Homo sapiens: one gene and its partners. The protein of the gene in region 3 interacts with the protein of the main gene of each other region in a pairwise test. Each region holds a gene or a part of one and is shown on either strand. Other genes may lie near its edges. The genes, in order: BMP10, INSIG2 and KIR2DL3.

The links.
Region 1: the proteins of KIR2DL3 (region 3) and BMP10 interact in binary tests that used the Homo sapiens proteins (3 or more experiments, as listed by UniProt).
Region 2: the proteins of KIR2DL3 (region 3) and INSIG2 interact in binary tests that used the Homo sapiens proteins (3 or more experiments, as listed by UniProt).

The regions. Positions count from the first base shown.
Region 1 is NC_000002.12:68,861,275-68,864,927, forward strand, and holds part of BMP10 (bone morphogenetic protein 10 preproprotein), read right to left. Parts: 3' UTR 1-3,653. UniProt on the Homo sapiens protein: Required for maintaining the proliferative activity of embryonic cardiomyocytes by preventing premature activation of the negative cell cycle regulator CDKN1C/p57KIP and maintaining the required expression levels of cardiogenic factors such as MEF2C and NKX2-5.
Region 2 is NC_000002.12:118,098,445-118,102,097, forward strand, and holds part of INSIG2 (insulin-induced gene 2 protein), read left to right. Parts: intron 1-3,653. UniProt on the Homo sapiens protein: Oxysterol-binding protein that mediates feedback control of cholesterol synthesis by controlling both endoplasmic reticulum to Golgi transport of SCAP and degradation of HMGCR.
Region 3 is NC_000019.10:54,744,993-54,748,645, forward strand, and holds part of KIR2DL3 (killer cell immunoglobulin-like receptor 2DL3 precursor), read left to right. Parts: intron 1-2,342; coding exon 2,343-2,393; intron 2,394-3,653. UniProt on the Homo sapiens protein: Receptor on natural killer (NK) cells for HLA-C alleles (HLA-Cw1, HLA-Cw3 and HLA-Cw7). Inhibits the activity of NK cells thus preventing cell lysis.

The DNA of each region.
Region 1 (3,653 bases), on a different chromosome or scaffold from region 3:
TAGGCGGGCGCTGGCACATTGGCCGCCCCACCACTATCAAGCCAGGTGCTCACAAAACCAGTGCCCATGTGTGATAAAAACATGCTGATCACAACAAACAGTTATTCCATGATGGGTTTTTAACTTATGACAAATATTTCACATGCAGAAACACCCCTGTGTACTTCTCTTCCATAGTCACATCTACCTTCCATTTAATGTAGGAAATCAACTGTTCCTGTTTGGGGGCAAGAAAATGCACAGAGTCATACCAGCATTTCCTCTTGCACCATATGTGAGCTTGCAGAACTGCAAAGGGTTGAGAATGACCCACAGTGACTCTGAAAAGATCTACAACCTTAAAAAGGGCAACATCCCTTCTGTGTTCTAGGCAAGTTAAAAAGGTTTTGCCAGAACACTGCTAGGCTTCATAATCTGTTGATGAATCAAGTAAGAAGAATACATAAAATTCTCTTATATGAAAATATCTTTTACTTGAAGAATATAAATCATAACAAATACTGAAACATTTAGTAACAGTTCTTAAAAAAAAAAGGTTTTTGTCATTAATTCCCCGGACCAAAATTTACACATCAGGAAAGAATTCGGCACTTTGGGGCTGACTCTTTTGGAAATCACTAAGCTAACATTTTTGACATTTACAAAGTAATTGGTCCAATTACAAATGAATTTGACCAATCACATCTCTGAATTTCTGGGTCAGTGACGGCAACAGGTGAATTCAGAGGGGAAGTACCAGATTTGGGGGATGAAAAGATTCATTTAAATAGCATCTCCGTTTACTGAGTAGCAATCACATTCTCTCACAGCCTGACAATATTTGCTTCTCATGATAAACTGACAACATCACTTTATGAAACTGCATGACAATGTATTGGTTAAATATTTCCTGGAACATCTACACTTCAGTTAAAACTGTACTATTTACAAATCAGAAAATATACTACAAAGCATGCTTGTAGGCACAGCATGCCTGCAAGACACAAATATACAAAATTATGGCAAGCTATGGCAAGATTCCTTAAACCAATAGAATATTCTGATGCAAAAAGAGAGAGATGGAAATACAGGCCATATATTATATGTGAGCCATACTCTGAAGCCCAGAAGACTCTCTATCCAAAAGGGAATCACAGACATAAAAATAAAATATTTGGTATTCTACAATATTTTACAAAAATAAATATATCAATCAATAAATAGTGGGAAGCCTAGAAACTCTTACATGAATATTTTGGCTGTGGGCTGCCCAAGTCCCTCTGCTATAATTCTCCTCAAGAGTTGTTTAGCTATATCAACTTCGGTGATGATAATTCTGCAATAAAAGGGGGAAAAAAACTGGCATGGGACCCAGAAGAAGGTCTATGACCAGAGAAACATTAGTAAGATTCTACCTTTTTAAGGATCTGACAATATTCTGGCTTCCTGTCAATGCAGGAGTTGAAAGTGACACCGGTGTGCTGCCGGGGTTCCGGTGGGAGCTGGGAGAACTCCTCTACGGGCTGTGTCTTTTCACTTTCTGACAAAAAGCCAAAAAAATACAACTAGCAACATTTGAATAACAATATGTTGCTCTCTGCACTCCCTTTCCACAGGGAAGCAGAAAATCATAGAAATGCAGGTTTACATCTGGATGGGCAGAAAGAAACAACTGGGCTATGCAGCCTGATCGCCAACAGCCTATATTTTCATATCTCTTTAACAGAAGAGTGACTATAAGTGCTCGAGACAAGATTTCTCCAGAAGCCCGGAGCCAGCAGCGCACACAGTGGAAAGCAGGGCTGGCACATCCTTAACATTCTAGTATCAGGGTGCTAATGTCAGCGGTGTGCTAATGTCAGTGGGATACTAAATGTCAGCGGTGTGCCAGCACCAGTGCACAGCTCCCAAGAGCTGACTTAGGTTTTAGAAGTTTTGCAAGCCAGTTGACATCACCTTGGCAGCTCAAGATAGACCATGTAGGAGCGTTTGCAGCATTGAAATCCACAAATCAGGGCTTTTTCTCCCCCTGGATTGCTGGTTGTAAGGGTTTTACCAGCACACCACTGTCATATGTATTAGACATAAAGAAAATTTGCTTAATTTTTATCTAACCAGGACTATCCTGGTCAGCTGAGGTTTTACTGTGTATGTATTACAGTGTCCTTTAGAAAGGATAAGAAGTACCTTGGAGTATGTGAGTATACATTGTGTACCATGGAGTATGAAGGATGCACCACGTTCCACTGAGGGTATTAAGCGTGGTTATTCAAAGCCAGCTATACATCACACACACATACACACATCATGTTATATGGAGGCTGTTCCACAAATAGTGATTCTGAGTTGCATGGCTTTCTCAAAGCATCAATCACTGTATACCCACTGACGGTCAAAACACCACTCTTCCATGAGCAATGAATTCCCCAGGATTCACCCAGCAGACAACAGATCTAGCGAGCTGAGGTTCAAATTGGGCCTTCTTCAAAATAGTTTTCCTTGCCTCTATTGTCTAGTGCAGTTTGAGTTTATAACCTTAAGAGATTTGTAAAAGGGGACTGATTGTTTTCCAGGGTAAAAAAAAGAAAAAAGTGTCAGACTTCTTAAGGAAGCATTCCTTAAGATGAGTAGGGGTGAATGGGGGATGACGTACTGGAAACCACATTCCTGGTTCTAACAGGAACCATCCATGTTCCCTGCCTGGAGATGCTGGAACAGTTTGGAAACTGCTCTGCTCTGCTCTGGTTCCTCCTGCACAAAGCCCAGAATATGCTTGCCAGGTAGAGGGAAATGGTTAGGGGTTAAGACTGGAGGCTGCCACCTGCCAGGAAAACCCACCGGACCCTTCCTGTGCAGAACACTTCCTCACCACTTTCAGTCCTGGCCAGTTGCAAAATGGGAAGATGGTAAGATGAGAAGATGGGAAAGTTACTGGGTTTCTACCATGAAACAATCATGATTTCAAAATTCAGGCTTGGCTTTTGAGTCATTTGCTTGTGTGTCTATTCATAAATTCGTTTATTTAAATCCATTCATTTGGACTCTGGTTTTCTTTTTCTTATACTTACTTATTCTGGTTTTCTTTTCTCTTATATCTAAGTATTCTTCATGAACAAAACATTTGATAAAGGATATTATTAAAATAAAATCAAATTAAATATCACGGGAAGATTTAGAAATTAGAACACTAACTCCTTTCACCCTGAGAGCAAAGGCACTTAGGTGTCCCTTTCCAGTTCACAGCATGCATCATGAAGGCCAGGGAAGAGCAGGGACACAGGGATGGGAGGAAGGTGAGAGGCACTAGGGCCAAGAAGAAAGAGGGAAGGAAGAAGATGGAGCAGAGGAAAGCAGGGGTGCTGAGACAAGGGAACAGTGTTAACAGGTGAAGAAAGATATTAACATCCTTTCTTCCAACAGACAGACCCCTTCTGATTTTCCTCCTCTTAGTCTTTGATACTTCTATTTTGTCCAAAAGATTTAATTCTTTAAACAGAACCACTTTTGGTTTTACAGACACATCTGAGGATAGCCTCTGAGGATAACATCAATATCCTCTTCCCTTTCTCCCTTTCTCCCCTTCAAGTACCCTCCCAACCCCTCTACTCTCTGCAGCAGCAATGGCCAGTACTCATGGCCTTGCTTTCCTATTGTCTCAGGAACAGATTTCATGC
Region 2 (3,653 bases), on a different chromosome or scaffold from region 3:
GTCCCAGAGCCAGTGAGTGGTGTGACTGGGTCCACATGTCACATGCTGGGGAAGGGAAAAGGAAGCTACTCACACTTTTCCCCCTACTCAGGATGCCACTTTTCAAGCCTCCAGACTGGGTGCCAGACCTAGATGGAATTCCCTGGCGTGTGTTGTGCATTTGGGCTGGGGCAGGAGAACTTAACTGAGGTTTCATTGTACCTCCACTATGAAGAGTAACAGGGCTGCACCTGCTGTCTTGTCCTTCTGCCCCTTTAATGTCAGCACTTTTGCCATAAACTTACATTTTAGGAAGGAAAATTTCAAATGCTAATACCACAGTTCAGCCACTACTTTCCTTCCTGTTCCCAGCCACTAGGTTTGTCACACTTACAAACTTAACCTCATTTGGGGAATTTGCATTTACATTTCTTGCTTAAGTATTTCTTCTGAAAGCAGTTTGTACCATAAGGTACTTGGGCAAAAGAAAGTAGAGAGACATTAGGAAATCTAGATTCCAGCCAATTCTGCTACCAATTTTGTTAGTTAAGTCATGGTGTTTAGTAGATGAGAGTGAAAGATATCAGATTTGTCCAAGTTGCCAGAGATGGAAAATGGATTCTCTCAAAATCTCTGCTCTGCCATCCCCTGCATCATTATTTTAGGGAAAGTATCATGGGAAAAGAAGTAAATGATTTAAGAAACATAGTGTGTTTGAGTTTGTGTGTGTATGTAATATGCATATGTTTTTGTGTATATGTGTTGGCGTGGATTTTCAAGACCTCGCTAGGGTCTTACCATCTTAAGTCAGAAAAACTGATAATCATCCTTTGATTTTCCTGTTCAACTAACATTCATAGATAGAGCAGCCACCTTTTGGAGGGGCTCCAGAATCACCACCTTCTGTGTGTAGAAAGTGCTCCTTGTTATTTGCCACCTTTCTCTATAGCACAATCCTGGAAAATTTGCTAGTGGTGGTTCTGGTGGGACAACTAATAGAGAACTTTGGTAAACTAATTTTGATGACTTTTTTTTCTTAATTCCATATTTTTAGTTTGATAATGCTGATGTTACAAGTTAACTTCCTTATGTGTGCCATGCACCAGAATTGGAATTAGAAATCTTTTCAGCATTATTGAGGGCCACAAAGAAATCTTTCTAAAGAATAAATAGAAAAAGACAACTCGTGTGGATAAAATAAGTAGAGAAGTTGCCTCAAAAATCACAAGTAGCCTGGTTGTGTCCAAACGTATGAAAATAATATCTAATGTAAAAAGAAAAGAAAAATCTTTCCTGTTTAGCTGTGCAGTCCCTTGCCCTATTCCTGTAGAGCCTTGTAAGATTCCTTGCTTTCTCTCCCGTTCTACATCCAGTTTCCAAGTCTTACATCTTTCCTCTGTCTCTTTCTTGGTCCATCCCTCAATGGCTGTGCTTGGAGTCTTTAGTCTTTGCCGGCCTCTAGTTTTGCACCCACCCTTTTCTCAGCCCCCTTGTATGGTACCCTCACTGCTAAGAAGATGGCCTCTCTCTGGTACAACAGTGATGACATTGTTTTCCTGATTGCCCATTGTCTGCAGGGTAAAGTCTTTATAATATGGCCCTTGACTGCTTTTTTCTTCTTCAGAGTCTTTCTGGACCCTGCAGCTCCCTTTGTGTCTGAAGCTTACAGCTTCCTCTTAACACCAGCAGTTTCCAGTTTTCCATGAATGTCCTCAGCCACCTCCCTTTAATGAGAGCACTATTTCTGCGCCATTTACTGCTGAATGCTCCTGCCTCAAGGGTCACCTCTTTCCGTGAAGCTTTTCTGACAGCCCAGCACCTTGCCTTCCCCTAGCACAGGCAAGGAGAAGCCTGGGACCCCTCTGTCCTGTCAGCTGCCCTTAATGCAGGATTGTATTTAATTGTTTCTGTGGTCACTTTGCAATTGGAATCGTATCTTACTCTTTTGCCTTTTTTTTTTTTTTTTTTTTTTTGAGACGGAGTCTCACTCCGTCACCTGGGCTGGAGTGCAGTGGCGCCATCTCGGCTTACTGCAACCTCCACCTCCCAGCTTCAAGCGATTCTCCTGCCTCAGCCTTCCGAGTAGCTGGGATTACAGGCGCCCACCACTACGTCCAGCTATTTTTTTGTATTTTTAGTGGAGACAGGTTTTCACCATGTTGGCCGGGCTGGTCTCAAACTCCTGACCTCGCGATTCGCCTGCCTCGGCCTCTCAAAGTGCTGGGATTACAGGTGTGAGCCACCACGCCTGGCCTTACCTTTTTAAATCTCCAGCAAATACCAAGAACCAGACATATTGTCAGGGCTTAAGTATTTGTTGAAGGAAAATATTATCTTATAGTTTTGCGTCGAAGTATACCTCATGGAGTGTTTTCGTTTATTCAGTTCCTGTTTTCTTACAAAATGTCTGACTTTAACTGTGTTCCTTTTAGTGCCTCCCTGCATTTAAGCACATTCCCATAAAAAAGTGATGACTTACTACTGATATTTTACAAACTTCTTTAGTGTTTAGCTTTGGTAGACTGTAACTAGTCACTGGGAAATAACTTAAAGGTATCACAAGAAATGTGATTTTTGCATCAGAGAACCATTTGATTTATAAGCAGGATTGTGTTTGCATATGATTTTACACAGGCATGATTTTAACAGTCTTTCTTGTTTTTTTTAAAAAAAAGTACAAGAAGAGGAAAAGAGGCCCAGACATACTCTGTTGAGCTCTCAAACAGTGGAACCTCACAGTGTTGTATATATTGCTATCAGACTCTGCCATGCCTTTATTTAAAGGAAAGAAAGAAGACATTTAATGGGAAGTGACAAGCTTCTTCGAATTCTCCCTCTCAGTGAGCAACTGAGAACCATGCATACTCAATGGATTTGATTTTTATTGGCAAATCCCAGGGTTGGCAGTGTGGCAGTTTAAATTTCTTTTTGTGTTTTTGCTTTCTCTCCTCAGTTGTCTCTCACTTGCAAGTCTGACATCACATGCATAAAAATATAGTCGATTTTACTTATTTATACCTTTGCACATACATGTCAGTATTCTCTATGTAATAATTCTTTACCTAGGCATCAGTTGCTCAGGAAAATTGACTTGGAATGTCTGCTCTTAGTTGACTTTACTCAGCAACAGGCAAAGGGAGGATATATATGGTGGGGGGATGGGGGTGACAAATGAGCTGTTAGTTTTATGACCCCTTGAGAAAAAAAGAGGTGATATTCGTTTAACTACATTTCAACTGTTAGGGATGCTTGTTGCCATTTTATTTGTATAGAAATTTTAAAATCCTGTCAGTTAATCTTGTCAGGATTTTGGAGCAGATTTTTAAATAGGAATATAGTGTGAAACTTCTAGATTTACTAATAGTTATTGGAGCTCTGCATTGCCGAGATATGTTCTTAATCTCTTGATGTTCTGTGAGCCATCTATACTCAGCACATGCCTAACTCAAAAGAGTTGTGGACTAGAAAATGCATACAGTATTGCAGCATCTCATCTCGAGATAGAAGGGTGGTCACACAGCCTTTTTCAAATGCTGCACCATTGGTCTGCTAGGCTGTGATTTTTGATACTAATTGGTTTCTGTTTTTCTTCGAAGAGTGAATGCATTGCCTGTGAGATACAGCTGGCTAATACTGGGTAGGGGGAGGGCCTCTTGTCCCTCAGGCACTTAGAT
Region 3 (3,653 bases):
ATTCCTGGCCTCTGGAAGCCACCATTCTACTCTCTACCTTCATGAGATCCACCTTTTAGCTCTGTATATGGGTGAGAAATGGGAATCTTTGTAATGACTTCCAGTTCCATCCATGTGGCTGCAAATATCAGGATGTTATTCTTTCTATGGATGAGTAGTCTCCACTGTGCGTATGTACTACATTCTCTCTATCCATTCATCCACTGATGGGCAGGTAGGTTGACTCCACATCTTGGCTACTGTGAACAGTGCTGCACCAATCATACGAGTGCAGATATCACTTCGATATATTGATTTACTTTCCTTTGGATATAAACCCAGTAGTGAAATTGCTGGATACTATGAAAGTTCTCTTTTTAGTTATTCGTTTGTTGTTTTGTTTTTGTTTTTGAGACAGTTTCCCTCTGTGCCCAGGCTGGAGTACAAGTGAAGTCATCTTGGCTCATTGCAACCTCCGCCTCCTGGGTTCAAATGATTTTCCTGCCTCAGCCTCCCTAGTAGCTGGGATTACAGGTGCACGCCACCATGCCTGGCTACTTTTTGTTTTTTTTAGTATAGATGGGGTTTCCCCATGTTGGCTGGGCTGCTCTCAAACTCATGACCTCAACTGAGGTGCCCGCCTCGGTCTCCCAAAGTGCCGGGATTACAGGCATGATCCACCTCACCCAACCTCTTTTTAGTTCTTTAAAGGACTTCCACACTTTTCTCCGTAAAGGCTGTACTAATTTACACTCCTACCAACAGGGTATTAGGGTTCTCCTTTCTCTACCACTTTGGCAGGATTTCCTTTGCCTGTCTTGCAGCTAAAAGCCATTTTATTTTATTTCATTTTATTTTGAGATGGAGTTTCGCTCTTGTCACCCAGGCTGGAGTGCAGTGGTGCGATCTCGGCTCACCACAACCTCCACCTCCCAGGTTCAAGCGATTCTCCTGCCTCAGCCTCCCGAGTAGCTGGAATTACAGGCACACGCCACCACGCCCAACTAAATTTTGTATTTTTAGTAGAGACAGTGTTTCTTCATGTGGGTCAGACTGGTCTCAAACTCCCGACCTTATGAGGTTCACCCACCTCAGGCTCTCAAAGGTCTAGGATGACAGACGTGAGCCACCACGCCCGGCCTAAAATCCATTTTAATGGGGTGAGATGAAAACTCACTTTGATTTTAATTTGTGTTTCTCTGATGATGAGTGAAACTGAGCACTTTTTAGTATGTGGGGAAATTTCATGTGTTTTGCTCCTTTTTCAATTAAATCGTTTGTTTTATTGAGTTGTTTGAGCTTCTTATATTTCTAGTTATTAATCCCATCTCAGATGCATAGTTTGCACATATTTGCTCCCAATCTGTGGGTTGTCTCTTCACTTTGTTGGTTTATTTTTAGCGGTGCAGAAGTTGCTTAGTTTGAGGTAATCCCAATGGTCTATTTTTGCTTCGATTACTTGTGTTTTGAAGGTTTAAAACAAAATGTCTTCCTTCAGACAAATGTCCTGGAGCATTTCCCCAATATTTTCTTCTACGTGTTTCATAGGTTCAGGCCTTAGACTCACATCTTTAATCCATTTTCATTTGAGTTTTGTGTATAGTGACAGGTAGAGGTGCAGTTTCATTCCTCTGCATGTAGATGTCCAGGTTTCCCTGCACTGTTTATTGAAAAGACTGTCCTTTCCTGATTGTGAGTTCTTGGCACCTTTGTCAAAGTCCATTGGATGGGCTGGGCATGGTGGCTGACACCTGCAATTTCAGCACTTTGGGAGCCCAAGGCGGGTGGATCACCTGAGGCCAGGAGTTCAAGATTAGTCTGGCCGACGTGATGAAACATTGTCTCCACTAAAAATATAAAAATTAGCTGAGCATGGTGGTCAGCACCTGTAATACCACTACTCAGGAGTTTGAGGCCAGAGAATTGATTGAACCCAGGAGGCTGTGGTGGCAGTGAACCGAGATTGCACCTCTGCACTCCAGCCTGGGTGACAGAGCGAGACTCCATCTCAAAAGAAAAAAGAAAAAAACATTGGAGGTAAATGCATGGATTATATCTGTGTTCTTCATTCTGCTCCATTGTTCTACGTGCCTTTCTTTATGCCAATGTGATGCTGTTTTGCTTACTACAGCTCTGTAACATATTTTGAGATCAGGTAGTGTGATGCTCCTGTTTTCTCTTTATACCTTGAAGTCTCAAGACAGTGGGCGTCACATACAAAAATTACGGAAAAAAGGATCCCAGGACTCCCAGGGCCCAATATTAGATAACAGAGTGTTGGCCATGAACCAACCTCAAAGATTTCCATTGAGTAGAGGACAGACACCCTCATTTCCTCACCTCTCTCCTGTCTCGTGTTCTAGGAAACCCTTCAAATAGTTGGCCTTCACCCACTGAACCAAGCTCCGAAACCGGTGAGTACAGAACCCTCTTATATCCGCTTTTGGAAACCTGGGGAGGTAGAAACCTTCGATGCAGGCATTGACTCAGCATCTCGCAGCTCTGACATTGTACGCCTGTCTTCTACCATCTCCGAACTCCAGATACTCCAACAGCGAAAGGGATCTGGGCCCAACCTAGGGCTCAGTGAAATCTCTTAATCTCTCATTTTATGGAGCTGAGACCTCCTACAAGCTAGAAGAATGATTGCCAATCTGACATCCTTCTCAGGAAAAATGCAATGTTTGTTCTGCCTGCATTCCTAACTGGAGGATAAATTCCTGGGGGCTTGAGAGAGGGAAGGGAAGGGAACATCTGATGAGGGCGAGGTGTTTTAGAGAAGTTCCACTTGCCAAGGAATGAATTACTGTTGGTCATGAAGCAACCCTGGCTGACTCAGCAGAGCAACAGCCTTGCCGTAACAGAGAACGGAGCTCATGCACGCACACTTCGACTCACTGACTCATTCAGCCACGGCCCCATGCTCAGGCTGTGCAGTGCGGAACCTTTTCCTATTGTTGCCATAACAAATTTCCACAAGATTCGTGGGTGAAAACAAAACGGTTTTTTAATTATCTTACAGTGCTGTAGCTCAAAGTAGGAAGTGCATCTTACTGGGCTAAAATCAAGGTGACAGCAAGGCTGCCTTCCCTCTGAGGATTCCAGGCAAGAATCTGCTTCTCACTTATCCCAGCTTCTAAAGGCTCCCAGTTCCTTGGCTCCTGTTCCCCTTCCTCCTTCCTCAAAGCCCACAAAGACTGGTCACATCTCACATGGCATCACTCAGTGCCTTCTTCCTTACCACACCTCTTTCTCTGAATGCTGCTCTCCCTTCTTCCTTATCTTTTGAAAACTTGGGGATTCTATTGGGTTCACCAAGATGAAAATCCCTCATAATCTCCTGGAAATCATCCAGGATACCCTTGTTTTAAGTTCAGCTGATTAGCAACCGCAATTCCATCTACAATCTTCATTCCTCCTTTCCATGTAAAATAACATATTCACAAGCTATGGAGGCTAGGACAGGGACATTTTGGGGTGGGACAGCATTCTCCTGCCTTCCACAAACGGTGAACAAGATGCATTTGGCTTCTGCCCTTGGGACACTGATATTGCAGATGGTTAAATGGGAGGGCAGAAAATGAATGCACAAGTGGATCTATAAATGAATGATCCATTGGGAAGCATCTGTGCATGAAATCTATTTTTTGTTTGTTCTTTTGTTTATTGAGACA